Regions from separate parts of the Homo sapiens genome. Here region 1 is linked to region 2. The links come from fine-mapping of genetic effects on gene expression. Tissue or cell type: ovary. Region 2 holds a variant in brackets; the other region holds the start of a gene. All regions are shown on one strand. Distances are from middle to middle.

Evidence for each region. PIP is the estimated chance that this variant, and not a neighbour inherited with it, causes the effect.
Region 1: it holds the start of ZNF648, and the variant in region 2 is fine-mapped to the expression of ZNF648 in ovary (GTEx, PIP above 0.99).

Annotation. Positions count from the first base shown.
Region 1 is chr1:182,060,134-182,062,895 of GRCh38, forward strand. ZNF648 (zinc finger protein 648) reads right to left here and starts at 1,579. Exons shown (of 2, transcript NM_001009992.1): 1 at 1,435-1,579.
Region 2 is chr1:181,974,617-181,977,378 of GRCh38, forward strand. No RefSeq gene overlaps it. Among named protein-coding and RNA genes, the nearest start is that of ZNF648, 86 kb to the right of the region's middle. The variant G/A (reference allele first, on the strand shown) is at 1,062.

The sequences.
Region 1 (2,762 bases), 86 kb after region 2:
TGGGCTCCTCCCTGCTTTCATTGACCCAGATTGCCCTCCGCCAAAGAGAGAGGCCAGTGGCTGCCCATCAGAGCCAGGACCCATGTTGCAGAGGCCACTGCCTGTGGTGCTCAAGAGTATTAGTCACTGAGTATTTACCTTCTGAAAGCTCCTTCTCTCTACCTCTGCCCACCTTTCACTGCCATCTCAGACTGGATAAAAGGAGTGATCTTTGTATTTGGCTGGTACAGTTAACCCTATCCCCATCTCATTAAACTGTTCTTCCCTGGTTTCTGCCTGATCATGAGCCCAGTTACCCTGTGTGTATGAAGAGGGAGCAGTATGGAGGAATCCTCACTTTCTGCTCTGGATACAGAAGCCATGGATGGAGGGAGGACACATTGCAGTTGTGACTGGAATTCAGCATCTCACGTCTCTTTGTGCCCTAAAGCCCAGGGACCACTCCTCTTCTCTCACTGCTTCCCTCACCCATCACATGGCAGAGGGTAGCTGGCATGCCTTTTGACAGGAGCCCAGATCTGACATATTTTCAGCATAGTGGATCTTAGGGAGTGAATGTGTAGTTCATAGAGGGGACATACCACTAGCCAACCTCATAGAACTTGCTCAGACCAGCAGGCTTGATCCGGGGCTGTAGGTCCCCCAGCAGGGACAGCAAAGGGATGCTGGATTTGTATGAAACACATGTCTTAGGTCTCTTTCCCTCTTTACGACAACATACTGCCTGTTTCTGTGGCACTGTTCACAGATCACTGACTTTACCCGCTCCCCACCCCACCTCCAGCACAAATACCCCATTTTCCACAGTCTGTGTGTCATTCTTTTCCTCTGGGCCACAGGGGAGCCTCCTTAGGGTGGCACACAGCCCTCCACTAGCTAACCAATCTCCTCTCCAGAGCCCGTCAGGAGACTCTCTTTTCAGATGAGGTATCCCTCCTCCATCTGAAGCCATATCCCCAGTGAATATGTCCTGCTTTCTTCCTCCTGTCGCTGCCACACGCATGCTCTCGACCACCAGGAAGACCTGGAGGCAGGCAGGGGCACAGGGAGGGATTTTCTGGCAAAGTCTGCACAAATATACCTGGTCTGAAAGAGGAACACTGATGCCATGGTATGGCGGGCCTCTCTGCTCCCCAGATGTGCTAGTCCCCAGAGGCTGTCAGAGCAGTCCTTTGCTGGAACTTCCTCTGCACTTGCCAGCCAAGAGTGGACCAAATGCAGCCTTTGACTCCCCAACCTCATACATCCATCAACACTCTGCAGAAGCCTACCCTAAGGGCTTGTTGCAACCCCAGCCCATACCCCTCTTCTTTCCTTCATTCTTTCCAGATTGTACTGAAGTCCATCCTAGGCAGCCGCCTCCTACTTTCTTCTCTGCTCACCGCCTTCAGGCCTTGCTCTCCACTCCTGGCTCACACACAGACGGTTGCTTACCTGGGAAATGCAGACAGCAGTGTGGGGCCTCTGCCCTGGCTTCTGTGACACGTGGGCTCTCAGCAACAGGAACCAGTTAGGTACAAATCAGCAGAGATGGTGTCTCTGTCTCTCACGCTTTGTGTCCAGTCCAGCGGCTGCAGAGAGAGCCTCTGGAGGTGGGGCCAGTGTAATACACTCAACCTTCCTGCCTGCATCCAGAGAGCAGCCTGGGAAATAGAGTGGGGCTGCCCTCTCTCACTGCCTGAACCGATCCTCTGGCTCCCTCTGCTCCTGCCTCCCCTCCCTGCCAAAGCCAGCCTTCCTCCTTCCCTCCTCTCAGTCTTCCTGCAGGTGGCCCTATGCCTCTTGTTCACTTTCACTCCTTCCTTCCACAGAGCAGTCCATCCTTCACTTTAGCCCTGGTATGCCCATGGGCCACATGTCACTTGTGAGCTTCCTGGGTAGCATGCTTTTTCCCTCCTGGAAGGCAGAACAGAGTATTTGGCCTATATGCCCACCTCCCTATTCTAGTACCCACCTTTTGCAGGACTGTGAGTTGCAGAACTGTGAGGGGTTGGGATTCCCAGAATTCTTTGTAGCAGCCCATTCATTGGCTCAAAGATGCCCACAGCCTTTTAACTGGGAGTAGGGGTGCAGGGAGATGGTTTTCTGTCTTATGCATACAGATGCCAGGCCTGTCTGGGGTCTCTTTCCACTTTCAGCATTGATTCCCATGCAGGTTCATTTTGAAGAGAAGGATTGGCCCAAGGTAGAAGACTCAGTACATTCAGAATTTTTACCCACTCAAGTCTAATGTGCATTTATTAGGATGAACATTCAGGGCATTAAAATAGGTGATGGAAGTGTGGTTCCTGTGATGTCACTAGGTGGTCACAAAGTATACTGATTGACAGCACGGTCTGGGTCTGGGTTTGAATCTTACTACTTACTAGCTGTGTGATCTTGGGCAAGTTATTTAACCTCTGTGTGCCTTAGTGTCTCATCTGCAAAACAGGGACCAGGATACTATTGCCATCATGGAAGTTTGGGGAGTATTAAATGAGATAATGCATGTAAGGAGCTTAGTTCGGTGTTTGGAACATAGCAAGTACCCAAAAACGTTAGCTGCTTTCATTGTTATTATTGACGATTTTTAAAAATTTTAAGTTCCGGGATACATGTGCAGGATATGCAGGTTTGTTACATAGGTAAACATGTGCCATGCTGGTTTGCTGCACCTATCAACCCTTCCTTCACCTAGGTATTAAGCCCGGCATGCATTAGCTATTTTTCCTGATGCTCTCTCCACCCCGCACTCCCCCAACTGGCCCCAATATGTGTTGTTC
Region 2 (2,762 bases):
ACCATGTGAATCCTGCACTGGCAATCAAGGTATCCAGCTTTTCTCATCAGAACTGACTAGACGGCTGGTGTGATCCATAGAGAGGAAGGAAGGGCAGTGTGGTGCAGTGGCCCACCTGAGAGCCACACGAGGCAGGCGAGTCCCCATCCCCCAGTCAAGGGAGGTGATGAGTGAGCGTGCTACCCGGCAGGGTAAACCATGCTTTTTCCACGGAACTGTGCAACCCACGGATCAGAAGATCCCACTTGCAAACCCACCCCACCAGGGCCTAGGGTCCCAATCCCGGACCTGCACAGATTCTCAACAGCCTCTCAGCTAGAATCTGCTTAAGGTTGGCAAGTTCCTGGGGAAAGGGGCAACCAGCACCAAAGCTGCTGCTGCCTATCTAAGCCATTTGAGCTCCTTAGGAGAGGGACAGCAACCTGCACTGGGACTCATAACTGCCTAATATGCTAAGCTTCCTGGGCTCCGTCTCTGTAGCTCCAGGCCAAGCTTTTCCCCTGCTGGAGCCAGGAAGGCTGGACGGCTTGATCCCAAAAGGTGTCCTCCACAGCCCAACACACCAGATATGGGAAACTGCAGCCAGAGCGCCTCTTCAGGCCTGACCCTGACCCATCCTTCCTCACTGGGTGGGGCCTCCCTGCAGGAACTCTAACAACTCCAGCCAGAGGCTCAGGGACAGAACCCCAATCTCCCTGGGCCTGAGCCCCTAGGGGGAACGGTGGCTGCAGTCTCTGCAGACTAGCAGACTTAGCCTTTCCTCCTGGTGTGTTTGAGGAATCCAGGCAGCACAGACAAGTGGGTTACCCCCCAGCAAAGCACACTCCCTCCACCAAGGACAGTCAAAGTGCTTGTTAAACTGGTCCTGTTTCCCATGCCACCCACCTGGGTGAGACCCTCCAACAGGGGTTGTCAGACACCCTACACAGGAGTGATCCTACTGGCATCAGGTTGGTGCCTTTTGAGGTCAGAGATCCCAGAAGAAGGAACAGGCACCCACCCATCTTTGCTGTTCTCCAGCCTCCTTGAGTGACATCTCCAGGTGCAGGAGGTAACCAGAT[G/A]AATAGGGCCTGAAGTGAACCCCCAGCAAATTGCAGAAGAGGGACCTGACCATTGAAAGAAAAACAAACAGAAAGCAACAACAACACCATCAACAACAAAAAAAAGTCCCCACCAAAACCCCATCCAAGGGTCAGCAGCCTCAAAGATCAAAACTAGACAAACTCATGAAGAATAAATGAAAAAATGCTGAAAACCCATAAAGCCAGAGTGCCTCTTCTCCTCCAAATGATCACAACACCTCTCCAGCAATGGCACAAAACTGGACAGAGGATGAGATGGATGAATTGACAGAAGTAGGCTTCAGAAGATAGGTAATGAGAAACTACACTGAGCTAAAGGAGTATGTTCTAATCCAATGCAAAGAAGCTAAAAACCTTGATAAAGGTTAGAGGAAGTGCTAACTAGAATAACCAGTTTAGACAGAAACATATATGACCTGATGGAGATGGAAAACACAGAACGAAAACTTCGTGAAGCATACACAAGTATCAACAGCTGAATTGACTGAGTGGAAGAAAAGATATCAGAGTTTGAAGACCACCTTGCTGAAAGAAGGGATGCAGACAAGAATAGAGAAAAAAGAATAAAAGGGAATGAAGAAATCCTCCAAGAAATATGGGACTACATAAAAGGACCAAATCTATGATTGATTGGAGTACCTGAAGGAAAGGGGGAGAATGGAAACAAGCTGGGAAACACACTTCAGGATATTATCCAGGAGAACTTCCCCAACCTAGCAAGACAGGCCAACATGCAAATTTAGGAAATACAGAGAACATCACTAAGATATTCCACAAGAATATCAACCCCAAGACACATAATCATCAGATTCTCCAAGGTCAAAATGAATAAAAAAATGTTAAGGGCAGCCAGAGAGAAAGGCCAGGTCACCTACAAAGGGAAGCCCATCAGACTAATAGTGGACCTCTCAGCAGAAACCCTACAAGCCAAAGACATTGGGGGCTGATATTCAACATTCTTAAAGAAAAGAATTTTCAACCCAGAATTTCATATCCAGCAAAACCAAGCTTCATAAGTGAAGGAGAAATAGAATCCTTTCCAGACAAAAAAATGATGGGGATTTCATCACCATTAGGCCTGCCTCACAAGAGAGTTCCTGAAGGAAGCACTAAATATGGAAAAGAAAAACTGGTACCAGCCCCTACAAAAGCACATCAAAACATAAAGACCAATGATATGATGAAGAAACTGCATCAACTAGTGTGCAAAATAACCAGATAGCATCATGATGACAGGATCAAATTCACACATAACAATACTAACCTTAAATGTAAATGGACTAAATGTCCCAATTAAAAGATAGAGACAGGAAGGGGAACATTACACACCAGGGACTGCTGTGGGGTCGGGGGGAGGCAGGAGGGATAGCATTAGGAGATATACCTAATGCTAAATGACAAGTTAATGGGTGCAGCACACCAACATGACACATGTATACATATGTAACAAACCTGCACGTTGTGCACATGTACCCTAAAACTTAAAGTATAATAATAATAAAATTAAAAAAAAAAGATAGAGACAGACTGGCAAATTGGATAAAGAGTCAAGACCCATCAGTGTGTTGTATTCAGGAGACCCATCTCACATGCAAAGACACACATAGGCTCAAAATAAAGGGATGCAGGAAATTAACCAAGCAAATAGAAAGCGAGAAAAAAAAAAAAAGCAGGGGTTAC